Homo sapiens: one gene and its partners. The protein of the gene in region 3 interacts with the protein of the main gene of each other region in a pairwise test. Each region holds a gene or a part of one and is shown on either strand. Other genes may lie near its edges.

Region 1 (7,323 bases), on a different chromosome or scaffold from region 3:
TCCAATACCCTTACAGTCCACCACCGCTGTCCTCAAATTTACATTAGAATCACCTGGGGAGCATTAAAAACCGCCAAGTTCTGGTGCCAGGCACAGTGCGACGTATGCAAATGTAATCCCAGCTGCTCAGGAGGCTGAGGCTGGAGGGTTGCCTGAGCCCAGGAGTTCAAAGCGAGCCTGGAGAACAGAGATTCTTATTGTGTGTAGGGAGTGTTGTGGCAGGCCAGGTCTCACTAATGCAGGCCTCCGGCCTTCATAATGACTGTTTAAGTACTGACTAAGTGGTTAATTTTTTTTTTTTTTTTGGAGATGGCATTTCGCTCATTGCCCAGGCTGGAGTGCATTGGTGCGATCTCGGCTCACTGCAACTCTGCCTCCCGGGTTCAAGCAATTCTCCTGCCTCTCAGCCTCTGGAGTAGCTGGGATTCCAGGCATGCACCACCGTGCCCGGCTAATTTTTGTATTTCTAGTAGAGACAGGGTTTCGGTATGTTGGCCAGGCTGGTCTCAAACTCTCCTGACCTCAGGTGATCCACCTGCCTCGGCCTCCCAAAGTGCTGCGATTACAGGCGTGAACCACCATGCCCAGCCAAGAGAGGCTTTTGATACTAATTGCCCAGTGATTAAGCTCTAGAAGGAATCCGATGAGATGTCAGGACTATTATTATTACCATTATTATTATTTTGAGATGGGGTCTCATTCTCTTGCCCAGGCTGGAGTGCAGTGGTGTGATCACGGCTCACTGCAGCTTTGACCTCCCAGGCTGAAGTGATCCTCCCACCTCGACCTCCTGAGTAGCTGGGATCACAAGTGTACATCACCATACCCAGCTGATTTATTTATCTCTTTGTAGAGATAGGGTCTCCCTATGTTGCCCAGGTCTCAAACTACTGGCCTCAACCTCAAGTGATCCTCCTGCCTCGGCCTCCCAAAGTGTTGGGATTGTGGGTGTCAGCCACCAAGCCCGGCCACAGCTGTGACTTCCCACTGCTCAGGAAGAACATCAGGGTCTGTTCACCAAGAGTTAACAGAAATAGACGCGATATGTAACAAACCCTGTTGGACCTAGTCTCATATTTTGCCCCATTTATTGTAATGTTTTAGAGATCTTACTCTGTTGCCCAGGCTGGAGTACAGTGATGCCACTATAGCTCACTGCAGCCTTGTCAACCTCCCAGGTTCAAGTGATTCTTCTGTTTCAGCCTCCCAAGTAGCTGGGACTACAAGTGTGTGCCACCACACTCAGCTAATTTTTGTATTTTTTGTAGAGATGGGGTTTCATCATGTTCCCCAGGCTAGTCTGAAACTCCTGGGCTCAAGTGATCCTCCTGTCTCTGTCTCCCAAAGTGCTGGGATTACAGGCATGAGCCATAGAACCAAGCAACTTTTTTTTTTTTTTTATTTGAGACTCAGTCTCAAAAAGATAAAATAAAAAAAGAAAGAAAGATCATACCTATTATGATACACCAGGGTTTCTCAAATTTTGTTTCCTATTAGCATCATCTGGGGAGCTTGGAAAAAAATCCCAATAACCAGGCTGGGCGCAGTGGCTCATGCCTTTAATCCCAGCACTTTGGGAGGCCAAGGCGAGCAGATCACTTGAGCCGAGGTGTTTGAGACCAGCCTGGGCAACATGGGGAAACCCCATCTGTACAAAAATCGCAAAATTAAGCCTGGCCAACATAGTGAAACCCCATCTTTACTAAAAATACAAAAACTGATCTGGGCCTGGTGGCACACATCTGTAGTCCCAGCTACTCAGGAGGCTAAGGTTGGAGGATCGCTTGAACCCAGGAGGCAGAAGTTGCAATGAGCTGCTGAGATTGCACCACTGCACTCCGGCCTGGGTGACAGAGCGAGACCCTGTTTCAAAAAAAAAAACAAAAAACCAGAATTAGCTGGCCTTGATGGTGTGCATCTGTAGTCCCAGCTGAGCCAAGGAGGTGAAGGTTGCAGTGAGCCGAGATTGCACCAGTGCACTCCAGCCTGGTGACAGGATAAGACCGTGCCTCAAAAAAAAAAAAAAAGAAAGGAAAAGAAGGCCAGGCGCGGTGACTCACACCTGTAATCCCAGCACTTTGGGAGGTGGGGCGGGCGGATCACAAGGTCAAGAGATCAAGACCATCCTAGCCAACATGGTGAAACCCCGTCTCTACTAAAAATACAAAAATTAGCTGGGCATGGTGGCAGGCACCTATAGTTCCAGCTACTTGGGAGGCTGAGGCAGGAGAATCACTTGAACCTGGAAGGCAGAGGTTGCAGTGAGCCGAGATCGTGTCACTGCATGCCAGCCTGGTGACAGAGTGAGACTCTGTCTCAAAAAAAAAATTAAAAAAAAGAAAAATCCCAATAACCAAACCCTGGCCCAGACCAATTAAAACAAAATCTCTATACATGGCTTTCAGGCCTCAGTGGTTCTTATTGTGTGTGTTGTATTGGGGGGGCTTTTGAGACCCCCACTCCTAACCTATTCCCAGACCAAACTGAGGGTTGGGCTTCTATATCTCACAGCCCAATAATGAGACACAGATGAACTAGGGAGGAAGAGAGTTTTTATTTCTGTAACTGGTTACAGGGAGAAGGCCTGGAAAATATCACCAGACCAACCCAAAATTACAAAGTCTTCCAGAGCTCATATACCTTCTAAGCTATATGTCTACGTGTAGGTGTGCATTCATCTAAAGACGTAAGTAAGTTATAGTCTTTTAACCCATAACTAAGATCTGAGTCCTGAAGACCTTCCTCTGGAGCCTCAGTAAATTTACTTAATCTAAGTGGGTCCAGGTGCTGGGGTGATTACCCTTATCTTATCTCCTGCTAAATCATGGAGGTTTGGGGGAGTTCCTTCAAACCCCAATAAACTTGTTTGTGGAGGCCTGAGGAGTTTCTTCAGACCGCCAATAAAGCTTGTTTAATCCTAAAAGGGTCCTGTTAAGAATTCCTTCATTATCTTGTCATGCTTCAAGGCCCAGGAAAGGCCTAGGCACAACTCTGGGTGGGCTTTTGTTACATCCCAGCCTTTGTATAAGGGCACTGGCTCTCTTATCTTTTAATATTTAACTTAACCCTTGTAATCCCAGCACTTTGGGAGGCCGAGGTGGGTGGATCACGTGAGGTCAGGAGTTTGAGACAAGCCTGGCCAACATGGTGAAACCACGTCTCTACTAAAAATACAAAAATTAGCTAGGTGTGGTGGCACATGCCTGTAATCCCAGCCACTTGAGAGGCTGACACACAAGAGAATCACTTGAACCCAGGAGGCAGAGGTTGCAGTGAGCCGAGATCATGCCATTGCACTCCAGCCTGGGTGACAGAGTGAGACTCCATCTCAAAAAAAAAAAAAAAAAAAAAAGCAAACAACAAAAACCCTCTCTTGGCTGCTTGCTCTGTGCCTTGAGCAAGAATCCTTCCAGCCCAGGAGTCACTTAGCAGTCTTCAAACATTCTAGTTTGCTTCTCTAGAGTTTCGGTCACATTTCTTTCCTAAGCAAAACACTATATAATTACCGAGTTGCAAAAATCATCTTTCCAAACGCCAAAACGGAGATAAGACAGAAAATAAAAGATGTGAGAGGCAGGCATCCTGGGTAAATCACTCTGGTATTGCAGGGTTGGGATCCCCAGGGTACTATGATGGCTAACTGGAACAGAATGCAGGCATTTCTCCAAAGCCCAAGAGTTCATAAAAGCAAATTAAATATGACTCAATGGATTAATCAAGGGCCACCAGTTGCATTACTGATTACTAACTTTGCAGAAATGAAACACGGTATGTTGGGTCAAGGTTCAGTGAGGCTGGTTTTCATAACATTCCAGGCAATAAACAGGCACACTCATTCATTGATAAATGTTGACAATGACAGGTGGTGACTGTTGATAAGGTTTGATTGCCATTCAGAAAGTTTGTTTGACCTCTTTCCAAGTAACCACGACCTTACCTCTCTCTTTTGAGCTTATCACAATTGGTGACTGTACACTTGTTTCATAGACTTCCCCACCAGACTGTGAGCTCCATAGGGCTGGGCCCCAGGTCGGTTTCACCACCAGGCTCTCTCGCCTAACTCGGCCCACGGGAGGCCGTTTCCAGCTGCTCTGGCTCCATAGCTCAGCCTGGCAGCGGCCACTGGGTGCCCTGATTTGGTCGGCCCCGCCCCACCGGGCCTTACTTCCGGGATGCTTCTGGCGGGAGCAAGAAACATGGTTACATACGACGTAATGCGCCTGCGCACAGTCCGTCCTGCGCCTGCGCATTCCTGACAGCACCTCCCGGACCGGACATAACGGTCCCCGCGCGGCTCCCCGAACCGGAAGTGGAGGTGAGCTGTCGCGGGCGGCGCCCGGCCTTGCTCAACGCCCAGCAGTCCCCACCGTCGCTGCCGCCGCCACCGCCCTCGGCCGCTGCCGAGGCCTCCTGCAGCCATCATGTCCGCCAGCGCCGTCTACGTGCTGGACCTGAAGGGCAAGGTACTGAGGGCTCCCCACCCTCCCTGTTGCCAGGCAACCGGCAGGGGCCTCCGCCCGCGGGGACCCACCCTGTTGCTAGGTAACCGGCTTATGAGCCCCATCCTGGTGTGAGGCAGAGAGGCCGGTAGACCTCACCTGAGAGCCCCATCCTGTTTCTGGGTAACCGGGCGGGGGTCTTAAGTGGGTAATCCCCGCCCTGTTGCTACGTAACGCGGTGGGCTGCAGCCACCGCGTTGCCAGGTAACTGACTGCACCGCCCTCTGCTCCCCGGCGCCGGGGCCGGGGGCTCGGGCCTCGGTGGAGGACCCAGAAGCGGGGCCGCAGCCGGCCTCGGAGCCAGGCAGGGCGTCCAGGGGCTGCGCGACCCTTGGCCGGGGGTGGCGAGGCGTGGCGGGGACTGGGTGCTCTCGAGCCAGTCCCGCCTTCTCAGGGCGTTACAGCTTCTGTTTATCGTGCACTTTCTCTCAGTAGGAATTTCTCCACGTTCATTGTGATAGTGAGTTACAAGGATTAGGTGAGGTGAGTGGTGATCACGAGTGCCGTTTTATAGAGGGAGAAACTGAGGCATGGAGAGGTGAAGCAACCTGACCAAGGTCACAATGGTCACAGAGAAGTAGCAAGTCTAGGAGTCCGATCCAGAATCATTCGTTTATTCAGCTGATATCTGGGGAGCACCTACTAATGCCGGGCAGGGTACTAAGCCTGGGGTCGATTTGTGTTTAGCAAAAAACAGTCCCTTTTTTTTTGTTTTGTTTTTGAGATAGTGTCATGCTCAGTCGTCCAGTCTGGAGTGTAGTGGTGCAATCTCCACTCACTGCAACCTCCGCCTCCCGGGTTCAAGCAATTTTCCTGCCTCAGCCTCCCAAGTAGCTGGGATTACAGGCACCTGCCACTACGCCGAGCTAAATTTTGTATTTTTAGTAGAGGCAGGGTTTCACCATGTTGACCAGGCTGGTCTCGAACTCTTGACCTCGAGTGATCCACCTGTCTTAGCCTCCCAAAGTGCTGGGATTACAGGTGTGAGTCATGTGCCAGGGCTCAACAATCTGTGTTCTTACGGTGTTCACAGGCTGGTAGGGGAGATGGATACCCATCTCCAAAAACACAAATAAATGTCAATTGCAGTGGTGTTGAGGGGCGAGTGTGTTATACAGACAGTCAGCCTCAGCCCGAGGATGAGAGAGGGTTTCCCTGAGGAGGGGTGACAAATGGACCAGAGACACCAGGGAGCTGGACATAAACTAGAACCCAGGCATCTTCCCCAGAGGATCTGAGAAAACTTTAAGAAGGGATTGTCCCCACCTTTTAGAAATGGTCCTCTGCCTTCTCCTAAGTCCATCCCAGGTGCAAGGCAGGTGGCTGCCTGGCCTGTTGCATGTGGAAGCAACAAGAACCGGTCCAACAATGTGAAGCCCAACATTGATCAGTGAGAGAAACAAACATGGGTGTCAGGTCCTAGGTGAGGCGGGCAGGGGTGAGCCCTAAAGCAGCTGAGAGTGAAGAGGTGAAATGGCTGCCCCTTCCCGCCCCACCCCACCCCCAGCACTTTCCTGAAGTCCCTTGAGTGGGTGCCTGCTCTGGAAGCCACCCAAAGTCAACAACTGGTGAGACCCAGTGCTGGGCTTCCCTCCCCCGCCTTCTTGGAAGGAGGGAAGACACCCGTCTTAGAGCACGCCAGGGGCTGGGTGGTGCGGTGGAATGAGTCCTGGTGGAATGAGTCTTGCTTCCACCCTGGCCACTGCCTCCCCAGAGGTGCCAGTGGGCTGCCTGTCTTGGCTTGCTTATTCCTTCAGCAAACATTTCATGAGCACCTAGCATGCACCCTGCCCTATGCCGGGCATAGGGTGTCCATTGGCGCCATGGCTGTGGTGTTAGGGGTGAGCTCAAAACCCATCCCTGCTGCTCAGCTGTGTGACCTGGGACAGGCACCTTCTCCTGTCTGAGCCTCACTTTCCTCACTGGTCAAAAGAGGCTTTTATGGAGTTATTGTGCAGATTTGCTGAGCAGATGCATGAGACAGGCTCAGCACCACCCATGGTCCATGTTAGCTCTCCCAGGCCTCTCGGTCTAGCAGGGGAGTCACCTAGAAGCAGAGACATTACCACACAGTTGGATCCAGGCAGCCACAGGGGCAGGAACAAGGTCCCAAGTCCTGCAGTTGCTCAACCTCATCTTTAGCCAGTGGAAGGGGGAGGTGGTTATGAAAGGCTCCCTGAAGAGGGCGACGCTGGAAGTAGGTTTGGAAGGCACGATCATGTGGAAAAGAGGTGTTGCAAGGGGCAGCCTGCTGGGGCTGCCAAGCCAGAAGTCCTGGCTAATGCTGAGATGGGAGAGAGGGACCAAGGGGACCACTTCAGTTCCAACCAGGAGCCACCGTGAGGAGACCGTAGCCCAGAGAGGCATGATCAGACCTGCCTTTCAGAAAGCTCCCCAAGGCAGCCGTGGGCTTCCTTCCCTTCCTCTGCAACCATGATGCCCTTTCTTATTCCACGACCCACGGACCTCCTGTTTCCAAAGTCAGCCTCGTGAGCCGACTGCATTTAATCAACAATAAAGCACACTGAGAAATTCATGGCCACGTGTCTGGTCACCGAGGACACCAGCGTGGCCACACTGGGCTGGGAGGAAGCTGTCCTAGTAGGAAGCTTCTCCGCTTTATCTAACTGGCTTCTCAGCAGCTTCTGACACCACTAACCACCTCCTCTTCAGTGCTCCCTTCCGCTTCCAGGAGGCTGCGCTCTGGGGGGTTTCCTCCTGTTTCTTGCACTGCCTACTTTCCTCCTTTTCTGCCCTCCCCAGGGCTGTGGAGCGGCTCAGGCCTACGCGTGCCTCCCCATGCTGTCACTCTTCCCAGGTGGGC
Region 2 (3,314 bases), on a different chromosome or scaffold from region 3:
TGGGTGGCCTCTAGGGGTGCTGACCAGGCGCCCTCTGCTGGGCCAAGCTCCAGGATTTGGGGATGAAGGTGCAGCTGAAAAGAGCCCTGCAAGCTGAAGCCACCGGGAGGGGATTAAGGGGGGGTGGGCAGGACCAGGGACCAGTCACAGGGCAGTAAGGCCTCACAGCAGGCACCCCAGGGCGGGGCAGCAAGCAGGCAGGAGGGGCCTCCCCGGGTGGCCTTCTAGGGAGGATGTACCCTGGCTGCCCAGCAGCAGCCCTGCTTGGCCGTGTCCCTGCCACAAGCAGGCAGGACACAGGAGGGATGGCACTGCCCACGGAGCCCTGGGCTCATGGCACCTTCTGCAGAGTGAGCCGGGAGCAGAGAGCCTCTTTTCCCCACTCTGTGAGGCCGGGCATTTTCCTCAGCCCTGCCCTAACCCCCACCATTCCTGTGATGGGCCCAGGTGCTAGACGGGCCTTGTCCTTGCCGAGGAAACCCATGCAGGCTGGGTCCCAAGCCTCTCATGCAGTTTCATTTTACCCAAGATGGGGCCAGCTTCCACTATGTTGATTGTTCTAGAGTGTTCACAGGCACCACCCATGGGCTTCACCCTCAGAACCACATTGATTCCCCCCAGAACCCTCCAAGGCAGGCTTCCCTTTACAGAGGAGGAAACTGAGGCAGGGACAGGGGCTTCTTGGGTACACACAGCTGTTCCTGGAAAACTTGGGCGGTGACTGTTGGTGCCTGCAGTGACCGGCCTTGTAGGGTCTGACTTGCAGCCAACTCTCAAGGCAAGGCCAGGCCCCAGCCCGGCTCCTTCAACAAGCAAGATTCAAAAGCTGACGTCTCCCAGAAGGCGGACCTGGAAGAGGAGCCCCTACTTCACAACAGCAAGCTGGACAAAGTTCCTGGGGTACAAGGGCAGGCCAGGTAAGGCTTGGGTGTTCCTGGGGTGCAAGGGCAGGCCAGGTAAGTCTTGCCTGCACCCTAAGGGCCCCATGACTACATTTACTAGGCTCACGCCCTGCAGTCAGCCAACTGCTCTGCCCCTAGCTCCAGGGGCCTGTCTCCTGGGCTCATGATAGCAGATGACGGCCACGCTCTACCCATCGGTGGGCGCTGTCTTCCTCCCTTCCCCTGGGGGTCCTGCAGAGTACCTGTGCTGACCTGAGCCCACGAGGGGGGCCAGTAGCAGCCCCTAAACCACTTCCTCAGAGAAAAGTAAAGTAATATTCTTACCAAGAGAAGGCTTGCTGCCCCTGGCCACAGCCTGCCTTTGGAGGGCACTAGGCCAGCAGGTCAGAGTAGGAACAGGTTCTGGTGATCCCTGAGTTTGCGGGACTGCCCTGAGATGCTACAGAGTGCACACTTTCAGCAGCGCAACCAGCAGGACAGGCTCCTGCATCTGCACATCCCAAGACCAGGCCTGGAGCAAGATGCCCCACTGGGTGTGGGGTCACGATCAAGAGCAGCCTGGCAGCTAGCTGGTCACCCACTGAAGCCCATCTGACCCTTAGGGCACCTTCAGAGGGGAGAAAGGGACAGGCCCCAGTCCCAGAGACCCCCACCTGGTGCCCAGAGCACCCTGCTCAGTGGGAGAGGGGAACCAGGCCCTCTTCCCCACATTGGCCTGGGCGCTGCCTGGGGAGGTATGCTGGGTGGGTGGTTAGACGCACCTGGGCAGGTCACCTCTGGCTGCTGCAATGACTGTTTCAGAAAGGAGAAAGCAGAGGCCTCTAATGCAGGAGCTGCCTGTATGGGGAACAGCCAGCACCAGGGCAGGCAGATGGGGGCGGGGGCACACCCCCCAATGATCCTGCCCCTTCCCCTGCGAAAGCCCACCACACTTAGGCAGTGCGAAGTGCTCATCCGCGAGCTGTGGAATACCAACCTCCTGCAGACCCAAGAGGTGAGGCCCTGGGTGGTGGGGGTGGCCCTGGGCAGTCTGGCACCGCCACAGGCCCCACCATGCCCCTGCCCCTGCCTTTCAGCTGCGGCACCTCAAGTCCCTCCTGGAAGGGAGCCAGAGGCCCCAGGCAGCCCCGGAGGAAGCTAGCTTTCCCAGGTGAGTGCCTGGTGCACCCCTGCCCCATCCCTGGGGTCCTATCCACAGCTCACTGCTGACTCTTCCTTCACCCAGGGACCAAGAAGCCACGCATTTCCCCAAGGTCTCCACCAAGAGCCTCTCCAAGAAATGGTAAGTCCCACAGGCATGGGGACAGTGGGGCAGCCCTGCAGCCTGGGCCCCAGGGAGGGAGTGGGGAAGGGAGGGTGGCAGCGCAGAAGCAGAGCTCGCTGAGGCCTCTCTGTGCCCCCGTGAGGGCCATGCAGGCCGCACTCCCCACACACTCCACTCCCGGGGATGCTCACGGTGACAGTCCCTCTACCCGCCCCAGCCTGAGCCCACCTGTGGCGGAGCGTGCCATCCTGCCCGCACTGAAGCAGACCCCGAAGAACAACTTTGCCGAGAGGCAGAAGAGGCTGCAGGCAATGCAGAAACGGCGCCTGCATCGCTCAGTGCTTTGAGCCACCCCAATCTGGTCAGTGCCAGGCCCACCAACCTGCAGCTGGAGACTGGCTCTCTATAGCATTTCCTGATACTTCCGCTACTTTTAGGCCTGGCTAAATTCCAAGACAGATAACACTCAAGATAGATAAAGTACTTGATCTCCAAACTGACAAACTGTTTATTTTCTAGCTGTTATTTTGCTATTTGGCATTTACATAAAAGCACACGATGAAGCAGGTATCGCCTTACCTGTTGAAACTGAAAATAAAGCTTGTTTATTTCCAAGTTGTGTGCCTGGCTCCTCACTGGCTATCAGGCGTCGCGTCCCTTCCCAGTCCCAGCCCTTGGCCTCTAGCCCAGGCCCTGCTGTCTGCAGGGACCTGCCTGGGCAGCCCAGTCTTGCGCATCCTGGGACCTGCCAGCGGCCCTGGGAGATAGGCATTGGCAGAGCCATGCACATCCTCCCTGGAAGCGGGAGGGCTTTTCTGGTCCCCTGGCTGGGCTGGAGCTGCGTTCCAAACACATGATCACTCTGTCTCTTGCCCACACTGCACACTCCTGGGGGCAAGAGGCTGTCCTCTCCTGCCCTGACACAGCACCGCAGACAGGGGGTCCAGCCAGGCTCGCCCTCCTCCTCGGAGGGCTGTCTCGAGTGCTGTGGCCATGCCCACACCACCCCTTCCGCCATAGCACAGCCATGTCCATGTCGGGGGTGGGGTGGCCAGCTTACTGCCCACCCTCAGCCAGCCACACAGTCTTCCCAGGCCCACGGCCCCACTTCGTTGGCATTAATCTCAGCCTCTTCCTGCTTCAGGGAG
Region 3 (7,035 bases):
CTGTAAGAGGACTGTCATGTGATGAAGATAAAGTGAAATACAAGCTTTCCTAAGAAAATCCTGTATCACAGGTCAAAACACGCATAAGGCATGCAAGTACTGAGACGAAGCAGAGTAGACACACCCAATACCTGAAAAATGTTCATTGGTTTTACTAGAGTATTGAGGAGGGTCCTGCTGACACCCCTTGGGCTGGAGAGGCCTCCTCTGAAAGGGAGCCCTGGGAAAGGGCTGCTCTCACTCTTCACTCCTTTCTCCTCCCTCAGCTCCACCTGTTCCTCAGGTGCCTGCTCTTCCCCGTGAGGGAAGCCCAGGAGACCAGGCAGCTGCGCTCTTGACAGCCAGGTACCAGGTGAGCTGAGGAACCCTCTGCTTTTCCTCAGGGACTATTGCTACTGATGGAGTGTGGCCTCTCTCTCATCCCATCTGTAGACCTTGCCTGGAATTTTTTTCAATAGCAGACTCCAGTTTGGGAATTGATCCTCTTCGGAGACCTGGACTTCACATAAACCAACTTCCCATCTCCCCAGTGCCATGAGCAAACTCTGTTTTCTCTTTGTCCATGGTTGTGTGATGGGTGCTTATTAGATGTTTAAGGGTTATGGGCTTTATTCCGTAGGTTCTAATCTGTTCTCCCTCCTCCTCAACGTAAGTACACAGTGGATACCCTCTCTATGATCTTCATTCTCTGGCCATGGTGCTACAGTGTTCTCATTCCTCAGAGCAGCCAGGATGTGTTATTTCAGGAGTTTGTGACATTCGAGGATGTGGCTGTGCACCTTACTCGAGAGGAATGGGGATACCTGGACCCTGTTCAGAGGGACCTCTACAGAGAAGTGATGTTAGAGAATTATGGGAACGTGGTCTCACTGGGTAAGGACTTCCTTATTATTCGGTTTATCTATTTGAATTTCTTTACTTTCTTGTTTCTTCCTAAGTATAAGGTCTCTGAGAAGGTCTGTAGAGTGTGGCTTAGATTCCAGGACTTAGAACCTCTGAATCCTTATCTTTCACATCGTCTTCTCCGGGAGGGGTAATTAACGTTTGTTTGGGGGTGCCAAGAAGAGACATTCTCCTCCTTATCCCCAGTTCATGTTTATGGCCATTGTGGGGCATCTTTTCCCTTTTAGCAAAGGGAAACTTTCTTGTGCTTTGCTTGATTTCTCACCGTTCTTTTCTTTTCCATTTTTGTAGGAGAGACCCCAGGGTGGCCTCCCAACCTCCAACCAGACACTTTCCTCTTTGTTATCTCAGTGTCCCTGTATTAGAGAATTGAAGAATTTCCCATTTTTCTAGGAAAAAGAAATGCCGTTTATTTAAAAAGACAGGCTAAATTCCTTCTTGTTGAGTAGTCCCTCACCCCTTAAGATCCCCAGATGTATCTCCAAGCAGGCAGAACTTGAGATGTCATTTGAAGGCATGACTCACTGTGAGTACATTTCAGTGAGTCACCCAGAATGGTAATCCCACGTAACCACACCCAGGGCAGCAGAAATCTCAGATGTTTACCCCATGCTGAGGTGGGGTCAATGCTTAACTCATGTCTCTCCCTTGTCATTTTGAAAGGTACAGTGGGAAGCTGGGATTAGCCAAGCTGTAGTGCTGCTGGGAAGCATCAGTGGGGTTTGTCGGCAGCTCCCTTGGTGTGAGCATTGTTCCTTTTTCTTTAGTTTATTTTTTATATTATATTATATTTTTTATTTTATTTTATTTTTAGATGGAGTTTCACTCTTGTTGCCCAGGCTGGAGTGCAGTGGTGCAATCTCAACTCACTACAACCTCTGCCTTCCAGGTTCAAGCGATTCTCCTGCCTCAGCCTCCCAAGTAGCTGGGATTACAGGCATGGGCCACCACGCCCGCCTAATTTTGTATTTTTAGTAGAGACGGGGTTTCACCATGCTGGTCAGGCTGATCTCGAACTCTTGACCTCAAGTGATCCACCTTCCTTGGCCTCCCAAAGTGCTGGAATTACAGGCATGAGCCACCGCACCCAGCCTCCTTTTTCTTTAGTTTCTTGCTTGCTTCTGCACTCTTCTTTTTGTGTGTGTAAATACTGAATCATGCATTTTCTTTTCTTTTTTTTTTTTCCGTTGGCTTTGTCTATGCTGGTGGCATCCAGGGCATTGCTTTGTCTCCCTGATTATGCTCAGGATTCAAGGTCTTCTTATTTGTGGGGAGGCAGGCTGCCCACTGGGACGGTTTTTAGTGTGTTTTCCATTCCTGGCTCTTTAATCTTTGTAGGCATACTTCTCCGCCTTCCCACCACCCGGATTCATAGTGTGAATTCCTGCCCGGCCCTGAGTCATACCCAGGCAAGTGCTTTCTCTGGAGAAACACTTGCCGTCCTTACAGCAGGAATCTCCAAGAGATGGCCCAAGTATCGGCTTCCCATCGATATTGCTCGTCCCTGCTCGGAAACTCCTTTTCCACGATTGTGAGATATTAAAATTGACTGATGGAATAGAAGCTCCCCAGGATGCCACCACTGTGTAAAATCGCAGCTCCTCAAATTACCTCTGTTTAATTTCAAATGTTAGGGTCCAAGGAAGCCCTCTGTTGCAACCAGATATGTTTTGAACCCAGTTCATTCAGAAACCATGGTTGGTGGTCATCATCTACTTGTATTGTGAAAAACCAGAAATTCCAAATTCAGCTCTTCAGTTATGGTCTTTTCATATTATTTTAGAATGTGAAACTTATGCTGTGTGCCCCTCCTTTTATGTGGCGAACACAACCTGCCCCGTATGGTGCCTAACTCTCCTGTGAACCCTGGGCTTCCCTCATGTTTAACATTCTGGTTTCCTCCTTCCTTGAAGTCCCTGTGGCCCTCTTCAAGGTCCTACCTTCCTACCCTTTATTCTTTGTGGTTCTGTACAGATTGATGCAATTATATTGCCTTTCCTGATTAAGTGTTCCTTACTCTGTCCTTGATGGAGGGGAGAAGGGAGGGCAAAGAAGTTAAATTTATTTCAGGGCATCAAATTGAATATCTACTTAATAACTTTGTAAACTGTAAAGTGACATACATATAATTGTAAAGTACTGTTAATTTTATCTAATAATTACAGAGTTTCCAACAGTTAACCTGTCTACTTTTTGGAGTAAAGAAACTTTGTAGCAGTTTAATGCAGTCTAATAGCATAGTATGCTATAGACTGAACTTTATCCCATTTCCTCTCTTATCTCTGCACTGCACACTCGACATGCAGTCGACATGCATACACACTTTTACACATACAAGAGACACGCACAGTGCAAGAAAGCCTTCTACTCATCTTGCTTTTGTGATCAAGTTAGCAGCATCTCCTTAGCAGTTATTTTTACAATCCTTGGGAAATCATTTTCATATTTTTGGGTTCAGCAGACTTCATCTGAAAATTAACCCATTTATGCCTAGTGTTCCATTATTGGAACACTAAGCTTGCGGGAATTATTTATGTCCCGCTGCTCAAGGTCATCGCCAAGGTCTGATTTTTAACAAAAATTGCAACCTCCAGCATAACTGGGTTAAGTTTATACATTTATTAATTTAACTTTTTAGGGTTGTAAGACTTTTTTTTTTTTTGAGACGGAGTCTTGCTCTGTTGCCCAGGCTGGAGTGCAGTGGCACCATCTCTGCTCACCGCAAGCTCCACCTCCCGGCTTCATGCCATTCTCCTGCCTCAGCCTCCCAAGTAGCTGGGACTACAGATGCTCGCCACCATGCCTGGCTAATCTTTTCGTATTTTTAGTAGAGATGGGGTTTTGCCATCTTAGCCAGGATGGTCTCGATCTCCTGACCTCGTGATCCGCCTGTCTCGGCCTCCCAAAGTGCTGGGATTACAGGTTGTGAGCCACTGCGCCTGGCCTCCAGATTGTATTTGTCACAGACATTAGAACGTTGGTCCTTTGCTTAAGTGCTTCCACTATGCAGCAGTAAATATACAGAGTACAAATAGCTGAGTAAAGAAGTCGGTAATAAGTAATTTTCGTTACCACATAATTGAAAAAAGAACATACTCCATTGATGATGAATGAACAATTTGCCTCTGGGTCACTATCCATAGGGAAGTTACCTGTTACTTAGTGTGGTAGATTAAGACCCATAAAGGGGACCGAGTTGCTTTTCACATGGGTAAGTGTGGCAGGTGCCCTATTAGATGATGGCCTCAGAAGCATGCTTGTTAAAATTCTAATTGATATTAACTGGGTCAGTAGATTGGGAATGTTTGGCACATACTCTCTGCTTTTTTAACTTGATGTCATGAAGGACTACAGTTATTTTGCACAGAATGTTTTCCATTGTCACAGCTATTTAGTATTTATTGAGCAGCCAATATGTTATTGGGTACTATATATATGTATGTATACACACACACACACATATGTATATACACACACACAGACATAGGACATTTATATGTGTGTGTGTGTGTGTGTGTATATATATATATAAAGGATATGTGTATATATCTCATTTAATCCTTACCATAACCCTGTGAGCAGATGACACTGCTCCTATTTTATATCTGAGGAAACTGAGGCTCAGAGAAGTTAAGTGATCTTTGCAGGATCAGTGAGAGGCTTGGGACCCAGATCTGCCTCTGAAGCCCCTGCACTTTTTCACTACTTTGTGCCCTTAGGACAATAAGTTCAACTACACATGGAGTTTTTAATATTTTTAGTGAGTTGTGTGTACTCTGATGACAAGAAAAATTCAAAATGCCATGACAAATTGGACAGACAGGCCAGTATATAGTTTGGGACCAGAAAGGACATGCATTCAAAAAGTAAAACTCTCTAGGGACACATTCCAGTCCAACAGGTATCTACAAAAGAATGATATTGCTAAGGAGAGATATTATTTGTGTATTAAGGACCAGGAAGAAAAGCGTGAAGCTTTCAGATGGCTAAAAGCATAGCCGTAGTAAAAGCAGCAAACCATATGATAAGGCAAATTTTAAATATTATTTTTGAGGCAGGGTCCCCTCTTGTTGCCCAGGCTAGAATACAGTGGCATGATAACAGCTCACTGCAGCCTGGACTTCCCTCCAGGCTCAGGTGATCCTCCTACCTCAGCCTTCTGGGTAGCTGGGACTATAGGCCTGTACCATCATGCTAATTTTTTTCTATTTTTAGTAAAGAAGGTGTTTCGCTATGTTACCCAGGCTGTTGAACTCCTGGGCTCAAGTGATCTGCATGCCTCAGCTCCCCAGAGTCCTGGGATTACACATGTGAGCCAACACCATGCTCAGCTTTAACTGTTATTTTTGAAGACCAGATTAAAATAAATTTTATTAGAAAACTCTCAAGATTTAAATAAAATAATTTTTTTTTTGGAGACAGTCTTGCTCTGTCGCTCAGGCTGGAGTGTGGTGGCACAATGTCAGCTCACTGCAACCTCCGCCTCTCAGGCCCAAGCCATTCTTGTGCCTCAGCCTCCAGAGTAGCTGGGACTACAGGCATGCACCACCATACCCAGCTAATTTTTGTATTTTTAGTAGAGATGGGGTTTTGCCATGTTGGCCAGGCTGGTCTTGAACTCTTGGCCTCATGTGTTCCACATCCAGCCTTAAAATCAAAAGGTTTTAATAACTTAATTTTAAACGGAAAAAATGTAAAGCAAGTGCATATTTTGAAAGCATAGAGTCGGCCAGGTGCTGTGGCTCACACATGTAATCCCAGCACTTTGGGAGGCCAAGGCAGGCGGATCACCTGAGGTTGGGAGTTCGAGACCAGCCTGACCAACATGGAGAAACCCCGTCTCTACTAAAAATACAAAATTAGCCGGGCATGGTGGCGCATGCCTGTAATCCCAGCTACTCTGGAGGCTGAGGCAGGAGAATCACTTGAACCCAGGAGGTGGAGTTGAGGTGAGCCGAGATCGTGCCATTGCACTCCAGCCTGGGTGACAGAGTGCAACTCCGTCTCAAAAAAAAAAAAAAAGCATTCACGTCAATGTCAAGAGAACCTGCTACTAATGCTTTCTTTGATAGGCAGTATGATAGGTTGGAAAGAATATAAACTGGGATCAAGCTTGGGTTCCACTTACCAGCTGTAGTATGTTGAGCAAATTATTTAATCTGACACTCATTTTCTTGGTTTATAAAACATGAAAAATAATGTCTACCTTCTGGGTACAGGATTGAATTAGATTATGCATATAAGTACCTGGCTTGTGTCGGGTGCGGTGGCTCACGCCTGTAATCCAGCACTTTGGGAGGGTGAGGTGGGCGGATCACAAGGTCAGGAGTTCGAGACCAGCCTGACCAACATGGTGAAACCCCGTCTCTACTAAAAATACAAAAATTAGCTGGGCATGGTGGTACATGCCTGTGATTGCAGCTACCCAGGAGGCTGAGGCTGGAGAATCGCTTGAACCCGGGAGGTGGAGGTTGCAGTGAGCCAAGATCATGCCATTGCACTCCAGCCTGGGCGACAGAGCGAGACTCCATACCCCCCGGCCAAAAAAAAAAAAAAAAAATTAAGTACCTGCCTTGTGCTAGTTACTTTAATATTTTGGAAAGAATAGCAAGCGATATGAGCCATAGACCAGATTTTTTAATACAAATAAAAATTTCAGGAGTGTGTTCAAATTATTTATTTATAGTGGAGTTTCCTCAAATTTATTATTGTTTGGACTATTGTCTAGGGATTTGGATTTTTTTTTTTTTTTTTGAAATGGAGTCTCCCAGGCTGGAGTGTAGTGGCGTGATCTCGGCTCACTGCAACCTCTGCCTCCCGGGTTCAAGCGATTCTCCTTCCTCAGTCTCTCGAGTGGCTGGGACTACAGGCACCCGCCATCACGCCCGGCTAATTTTTGGTATTTTTAGTAGAGACAGGGTTTCACCGTGTTAGCCAGGATGGTCTCGATCTCCTGACCTTGTGATCTGCCTGCCTTGGCCTCCCAAAGTGCTAGGATTACAGGCGCGAGCCACCGTGCCTGGCTGGGGTTTGGATTTTTATTGTAAAGGATTTCCATTTCCTTGATAATAAATCATCTTTTAGATCCCTTTTAATTTTTAATTTTAATTTTTTGTAGAGATGGAGTCTCAC
Region 4 (7,035 bases), on a different chromosome or scaffold from region 3:
GCTGGGGTGGCCCTCCAGGACCAGCATGGGGACCACGGCCATTCTGCTCACCTGGCTGTGCTCACAACCTGGGCAGGGACCTGCTGGCTTTGTGCGCAGCTCTTGCAGCTCGGCCTCACAGCGCCGCATCTCCTGCCTCAGTCGCTCATTCTCCACCATCAGCAGGTCCCGGTGCTTCTCCAAGTCGGTGCCCCCCTGCAGAGAGCCAGGGCCGAGGGGGCGCATGTGGCGAGGGCAGATGACGGGGGAAAGAAGAGAGGCCCGCGGAGATGGCACAAGGGCAGGGAAGAGAGGAGAGGTGTGGAGAAAGGCAGAGGGAAGGAGAAAAAGAAAAAGAAAAAGGCAAGGGCAAGAGAGGAGGGAACAAGCTCAAGAGAGAAACCAAGAGAAAGACAGTGGAGGGCAGAGTTGAGAAGGGTGGTGACCCAGAGCCTGCTCTCCCTGCTGCCCCCACCCTATTCTGAGTGTGAAAGTCACAAGGAGAGACATATTTATACCAGGGTTCACACTCCCGTTTAATGTCAGCAACAGAGAAGGAACCTCCCACCCCCTGGAGCCACAAGGCCTCTGAGGGTACTAGGAGGTGGGGATAAGGCTCTCGGTGTGTTTCTGAGACAGGGTGGGATATGCGGGCTCAGGAGAGAGAGGGTCGCACCCCTGCCCCTGGCAGGGCCCATCTGCACAAGGCAGGCCAGGCCCTGCGCTACCCCAGGACAGCCTTGTGGCCTCACCAGCTCAGATCGCAGTCGGCTCACTTCCTGGGCCTGGCTAATGAGCTTCTCCTTCAGGTGTTCTACCTGTGGGCACAGAGTCAGGAGCAAGGTGAGCCTCAGTCCTCAGCTCCAGCCTACACCCAGGCCTCCTGCCCAGCACCAGGGATGACTGATGTGGCTGTGGCTTCTTCTAAGGCTGTGGCCTTAGGTTCCCCTATGTTCAAGCATCCCATCACACCTGGGACTTCAGGTGAGAGAAACCTGGGCTGGTGCTGACAGCCTCCCGCACCCTCTCCCTCCACAGGACAGAGCCAACCCCAGCTCTTCAGGAAAGCCCAGAGGGCAAGTGCAACCAAGGCCACCCCGATGCCCCCTGGGCCCACCCAACGGCAGCCCACCCTCAGGACCCCTCACTACACGAGCCCCTCCCAAAGTCCTGTACCTGCCTGTGTCTATGTAATTTTATGTTCTCTCTCTTTAAAAGGGCCCCCAGATGGTACATACTCCAGGTCCTCCGAGCCCTAGATCCACCCTGGCCCAGCCCCCAGAATTTTCCACTTGGGGTGGTCTCTGGCAAGTCAGCCTGTGGAGATGGGTCTGCCAGTGGTCAGGGCACACTCAGAACCTGTGTCCACCCCTGCTCCCAATCTGCCTTGCAGGAAAGCTGTGGCAGCCAAGGCTCTTATAGGGGGAAGGGGGTGTGCACCCCATGAGGAAGCCACGGTTACCTAGCTTATCCGGACCCCAGAAGAGGGGACACCATCATGGTGCCAGTCCCATGAGGGCAGATCCCAGGGGAGCAACCCTTCCCCGGCGCTGTCCTCCAGCCACCCATCCCCTCCCAAGGCCCTAGACCCTGGTCTCACATCAGCCCACCCCCAGAAACCTCTCTCAGGAAACAATTCACAGACACAGACTTTGGCTCCAGCTTCCGTCAGGGCATGTTTAGTACTTTTCTTGCAGAACGTCCTGTGGTGAGCAACCCCCACCTCGGGAAAGGTGCGCTAAGAGCCAGATTCCTGTGTGGTGGTTTAGGAGGTTTACACAGCTGGGTTCTCATTACTAAATGATAGGCAACAACGTCCACTGATTACAGGGGACAGCCAGGTAAGGCAGGTGAGGGGCTGTGCAGGGCTTGGCTCCCAAGAACCCTTTAAGAAGGCGGCCACCACGTACTCTCCTCGGACGACAGGAGGTGAGAACGCACACCCAGCATCGCCAAAATTCTCATCTTTCAAGAGAGGCCTAGGCCAGCCTGAGCAACACAGCAAGACCCCATCTCTACAAAAAGTTTCAAAACTCAGCCGAGTGCACCAGTGCACGCTTATAATCCCAGCTGTAATCCGGGGGGTTAGGTGGGAGATCACCTGAGCCCAGGAGTTTGAAGCTGCAGTAAGCTATGATAGCATCACTGTACCCCAGGGTGACAGAGCGAGGCTGTCTAAAAAAAATAAAATAAAAATAGAGGCTTAGAGTCCGCCCCCTTAGCACTCAGCAGCATGCATCAGCCATAGTTAAGACAGGCCGGACATTTGGATTTTGGGGGTGTGTGTAAAATCTCCCTACTTTACATGGTTGAGATGTCATCAAACAAGTCTGTGTCATCAAACAAGGTAGTGTTCGGCCTCGGAGGTCCCTGTCTCCCAGGGTGGGAGAGAACGGCTGACTCACAGCAGCTAGGCCAGCTCTGAGTGGTCAGGGAGGAAGTGGACCAAGGGATCCACCCCCACCTCTGAGGAAAAGGCCAGGGAGCTGGCACTGCCTGCTCTTGGTGGGGCAGGGGGATTCCAAGATGCAAGACCCAGGTGAAAGGCTGGGGGCCCAGCCAGGCCTCCTGGGGGACAAGCAGGTGACCCAAGGGCCAGACCCCTGGAGGTCAGCTCTGCCGCCACCTGCACAAACACATTCCTTCCTAGCAACACGCTGGGCCACGGGCCAGGCAGGGAGGCAGAGCTTGTGCCACTTCTCTGCCCGCTCAGTGCCTGATGAGAGGACGGCTCAAGTCCTTTGGCCCCTGGGTGGGAGTAGGGACAGTTTGCATGAGGCAGCCTTTCTGCTTTCGTCCTAAAATTGAGAATACCCTGAATAAGCACCCTTAGAGGAGTGGGCAGGTGAATTACAATGTGTATATATAGTACATAGACTATTCTGTCATCATTACATTCATGTTTATCAGGAGTTTTAAATGTCATGGGGAAAGGCTCATCAACATATTAAGTCCAAGAAACATCTGAAAAACCATTAAGTGTACAGCACTAAAAAGTGGGGGTCTCTGGGCTGTGGAATTATAGTTGACAAAATCTTTATGCTTTTCAGTAATTTTTTTTTTTCTTTTTGAGACAGGGTCTCACTCTGTCACCCAGGCTGGAGTGCAGTGCCTCGATCTAGGCTCACTGCAGCCTAGACCTCCTGGACTCAAGCCATCCTCCCATCTCAGCCTCCCGAGTAGCTGGGACTACAAGCACATACCATCACGCCCGGCTAATTTTTTTTTTTTTTTTAATGTATAGAAGGGTCTTGCCATTTTGCCCAAGCTGGCCTTGAATTCCTGGCCTCAAGCAGTCTTCCCGCCTCAGCCTCCCAAAGTGCTGGGATTACCGTTGTGAGCCCCTGCGCCCGGCCAGTAATTTTTCAGTCTCAAAGAATACGTAATTCCTACTCTCCCTACCCTGACATAAGTGAACTGACTTCCTCTTCAAAAGGTTGAAGTCTCCTTCCACGCCCCCTCCCTCCCCAGAAAGGCTGCTGCCTCAGCATGGGGCTGGGCGCACTAACCTTGATCATCTCCACTGCCGCCCCTGCCAGGCACTCAGACCCTGATGCAGGGAGAGTGGGGTTTGCCAGTGTTTGCTGGGGGTGGGAGGCGGGATACCCACCAGCCACCTGCCTGCGGCCCAGGGTTCTGTTCTGTCCTTGCATCACAATGGGAACCTGGGGGCTCCTGGGCTCTGTCCAGAATCTCAGAGGGGCACCCAAAAGGAAGTGGCCGCAACCGCAACCAGGGCAGGCTGGGGAGCATGGGGGATGGTGAGGGAGTTGAGGAAGGGGCTCTAAAGGCCCCTTTGTTCAGAGGTGTCAGACACTAGGTCATCTCTGGCTTCTTGAGGGCAGCAAAGCAGGGGGAATGTGACTGAGACGCAGCAGACTGGCACCACGAGCACTCTGGCCAAGGCACCAGTGGCCTGCTCCGTGGCAGGTGGTTGGCCAGCTCTACTGGGGGCTAGGTCTCGGGCTTGTAGGGAAGATGTCTGCTTTCTCCTGCACTTGAAGGCAGGCAATCTCTCAGAGTTAGGGAAAACAGGCAAGAAGTCAGAGAGAAACGGAGGCACCTGGGGAAAGCGGATGGAAGATGGCCTGGGAGCAGTGAGAGCCAAGAGCAGGCAGGGCCTTCCTCAGGGAAGACTGAGGGCCCTTCACACACTCACCGCAGCTTCCAGCCAGCAAGGGCCGTCCATGTCTCTAAGCCCAACAGGGGAGGGTCCCGAGTGCCACCCTGGGCCCGATACATACTTGTGGCCACAAAGGGGCAGCAGGCACATGCCTGAGCCCAAGACACAGGACGGAGGAGAAAGCAGACTCCCCACTAGGCGGCTGAAACGGTCCCAGGACAGCATGGACGTCAATCCAGGGCTGAGGACGGACCAGGCTGGGGCTGTGCGACACTCCTCCCGGGCCCAGGCTCCTCATCAGCCAGAGCAACTGAATCACGGGCCTGCTGCAGGGGGCGTCACCCTGCCTGCTCAAGGGGAAGAGGGAGCTGGGCCTGTCTGCCGGCTTGACACCACCTGCATTTACACTTCACAGGCAGAAGCGGCTCGACCAAGGGTGGGGCCAGCCAGCCCAGGTCTTTGTGTTTTCTCAGCTGTCTGCTTCCAAGGCGGCCTCTTACCATCACAGAAAGAAAACCTGCTGGTTACCTCCTTACCTCCCACCAAGCCCAGTCAACGATCATCAGCTGTCTGCTGAGGAAAAGCGGGCTCTCCCAGGCTGAAGCTGCTGAGCTGGGAAGGCCAGAGGGTCTGGGATCCAGACAACCTCAAGGAAACTCAGCCCAGAGGCCAGCGGGGCGGCCCTGGGAGCACACCCTGTGGAGCCCACAGAAGGCCTGATCCTGGCTGTATGACCACCGGCCAGGCCTATCTGTCCCCTGTCCACGCCACCCTGCCTCTGTTGCCAAGTCTTCACCTCTGGGTCCTTCCGCCACTGATGGGCAGTAATAGCAGCTGACAATTCGAATTCTAAAGCCAGGCTGCCCAGGTTCTAATCCAGACATCCCCTTACCTGCTGGGTAACCTTGGACAAGTCTCTTAAGTTCTCTATGTCTCTTAGTTTCCTTATTTGTATAATGAGGCTACCTCATGGAAGCTGTCTCGAGGATTAAACGAGATGATATATGCGAAGGCAGGGATTTTTGTCTGTTGTGTTCAGCACTGTACTCCCAGTGCCTGGAACAGTGCCTGGTACACAGTAGGTGTTCAGTAAGTACCTGTAGGAAGAATGCTGAATGCATGAGGGGCCAGCCAGAGCAGAACTTGTGGATGAGGTTGGTAAGCAGAGACAGAAAGGGTGGTGGGGCTGGAGCGTGCTAAAGGATGGTCACCTCCACCAAAGGCAGGAGCTGCCACTAGACCTCAAGCGGTGGGTGCCATGTGGGAATGTCAGCTCAGAGGTGCCACATCTTCCAATATTTTATGACAAAAAGGAAGTCTAGAGTTTTATGTGAATTTAATTAAGATTTGAATGTTGGAATTAATTTGATTTTAAAAGCAGGGCAATTAGAACTAATAAATTCAGCAAAGTTGAAGGATACAAAATGAACACACAAAAATCGGTTACATTTCTACAACTAACAATAAACAATCCAAAAAGGAAATTAAGAAAATAATTCCATTTACAATAGCATCAAAAAGAATAAAGTACCGAGGAATAAACTTAACAAAGGTTAAATATTGTATGCTAAAAACTACAAGATATTGGTGAAAGAAATTAAAGATGACACCAATAAATGGAAAGACATTCCATGTTCATGGATTAGAAGATTTAATATTGATAAGGTGTCAGTACTACCCAAAGTGATCTACAGATTCAATGCAATGCCTAACAAAATCCCAATGACATTTTCTAAAGAAATAGAAAAATCCATATCAAGGGACACCACATAGCTAAAACAGTCTTGAAAGACTGAAGGTCTCACACTTCCTGATTTCAAAACTCACTAAAAAGCTACAGCAATTGGCCAGGCGCGGTGGCTCATGCCTGTAATCCCAGCACTTTGGGAGGCCGAGGCAGGCGGATCACCTGAGGTCAGAAGTTTGAGGCCACCCTGGCCAACGTGACGAAACCCCATCTCTACTAAAAATACAAAAATTAGCCGGGCCTCATGGCAGGCGCCTGTAATCCCAGCTACTCAGGAGGCTGAGGCAGGAGAATCGCTTGAACCCGAGAGGCAGAGGTCGCAGTGAGCTGAGATTGCACCACTGCACTCCCGCCTGGGCAGCAGAGCAAGACTCCATCTCAAATAAAAAAAAAATTAAAAAAAAAAAAGCTACAGCAATCAAAGCAGTGTGGTACTGACATTAAAACAGACATAAAGAGCAATGGAATGGAATACAGAGTCCAGAAATAAACCCTCGCATATATGGTTAAATGATTTTTGACAAGGTTGCCAAGATCATTTAATGTGGGAAAGGATAATCTTTTCAACAAATGGTGCTGAGAAAACTGGATATCCACAGGCAAAAGAATGGAGTTGGATCCTTACCTTATACCATATACAAAAATTAACTCAAAATAGATCAAAGAGGGCCAGGCGTGGTGTAATCCCAGCACTTTGGGAGGCCAAGGTAGGAGGAGTGCTCGAGCCCAGGAGTTCAAGACCAGCCTGGGCAACATAGGGAAACCCTGTCTCTACAACAAGTAACCAAAATTAGCTGGGCACAGTGGCACACGCCTGTGGTCCCAGCTACTAGGGAGGCTGAGGCGGGCAGATCACTTGAGCCCAGGAGGCCAAGGCCACAGTGAGCCATGACTATACCACCACACTGCAGCCTGGGCAATACAGCAAGATCTTGTGTCAAAACAAAAAACAAAAAACCCCAAAGACCTAAATGTGAGAGCTAAAACTATAAAACTCTCAGAAGAAAATAGAGGAGAAAATGTCATGACATTAAATTTGGCAATGACTTCTTGGATATAACACCAAAAGCACAGGCAATAAAAGAAAAAATAGGTAAGTCAGACTTTATCAAAATTAAAAACTTTTGTATAACAAAGGACACTATCAACAGAGTGAAAAGGCAACACGTGGAAAATACTCGCAAAT

What was found.
Region 1: the proteins of ZNF655 (region 3) and AP1M1 interact in binary tests that used the Homo sapiens proteins (3 or more experiments, as listed by UniProt).
Region 2: the proteins of ZNF655 (region 3) and CCDC74A interact in binary tests that used the Homo sapiens proteins (3 or more experiments, as listed by UniProt).
Region 4: the proteins of ZNF655 (region 3) and KIFC3 interact in binary tests that used the Homo sapiens proteins (3 or more experiments, as listed by UniProt).

The regions. Positions count from the first base shown.
Region 1 is NC_000019.10:16,193,606-16,200,928, forward strand, and holds the start of AP1M1 (AP-1 complex subunit mu-1), read left to right. Parts: upstream 1-4,305; 5' UTR 4,306-4,421; coding exon 4,422-4,463; intron 4,464-7,323. UniProt on the Homo sapiens protein: Subunit of clathrin-associated adaptor protein complex 1 that plays a role in protein sorting in the trans-Golgi network (TGN) and endosomes.
Region 2 is NC_000002.12:131,530,886-131,534,199, forward strand, and holds the end of CCDC74A (coiled-coil domain-containing protein 74A), read left to right. Parts: intron 1-695; coding exon of another isoform or gene 696-721; exon of another isoform or gene 722-737; coding exon of another isoform or gene 738-778; coding exon 779-917; intron 918-1,703; coding exon 1,704-1,896; intron 1,897-1,978; coding exon 1,979-2,052; intron 2,053-2,127; coding exon 2,128-2,184; exon of another isoform or gene 2,185-2,189; intron 2,190-2,383; coding exon 2,384-2,513; 3' UTR 2,514-2,781; downstream 2,782-3,314.
Region 3 is NC_000007.14:99,561,622-99,568,656, forward strand, and holds part of ZNF655 (zinc finger protein 655), read left to right. Parts: intron 1-266; coding exon of another isoform or gene 267-352; exon of another isoform or gene 353-674; coding exon of another isoform or gene 675-873; intron 874-2,241; coding exon of another isoform or gene 2,242-2,438; exon of another isoform or gene 2,439-3,084; intron 3,085-7,035. UniProt on the Homo sapiens protein: Probable transcription factor.
Region 4 is NC_000016.10:57,771,492-57,778,526, forward strand, and holds part of KIFC3 (kinesin-like protein KIFC3), read right to left. Parts: intron 5,764-7,035; exon of another isoform or gene 4,995-5,763; intron 3,588-4,994; exon of another isoform or gene 3,498-3,587; coding exon of another isoform or gene 3,489-3,497; intron 862-3,488; exon of another isoform or gene 798-861; coding exon 732-797; intron 196-731; coding exon 52-195; intron 1-51. UniProt on the Homo sapiens protein: Minus-end microtubule-dependent motor protein. Involved in apically targeted transport. Required for zonula adherens maintenance.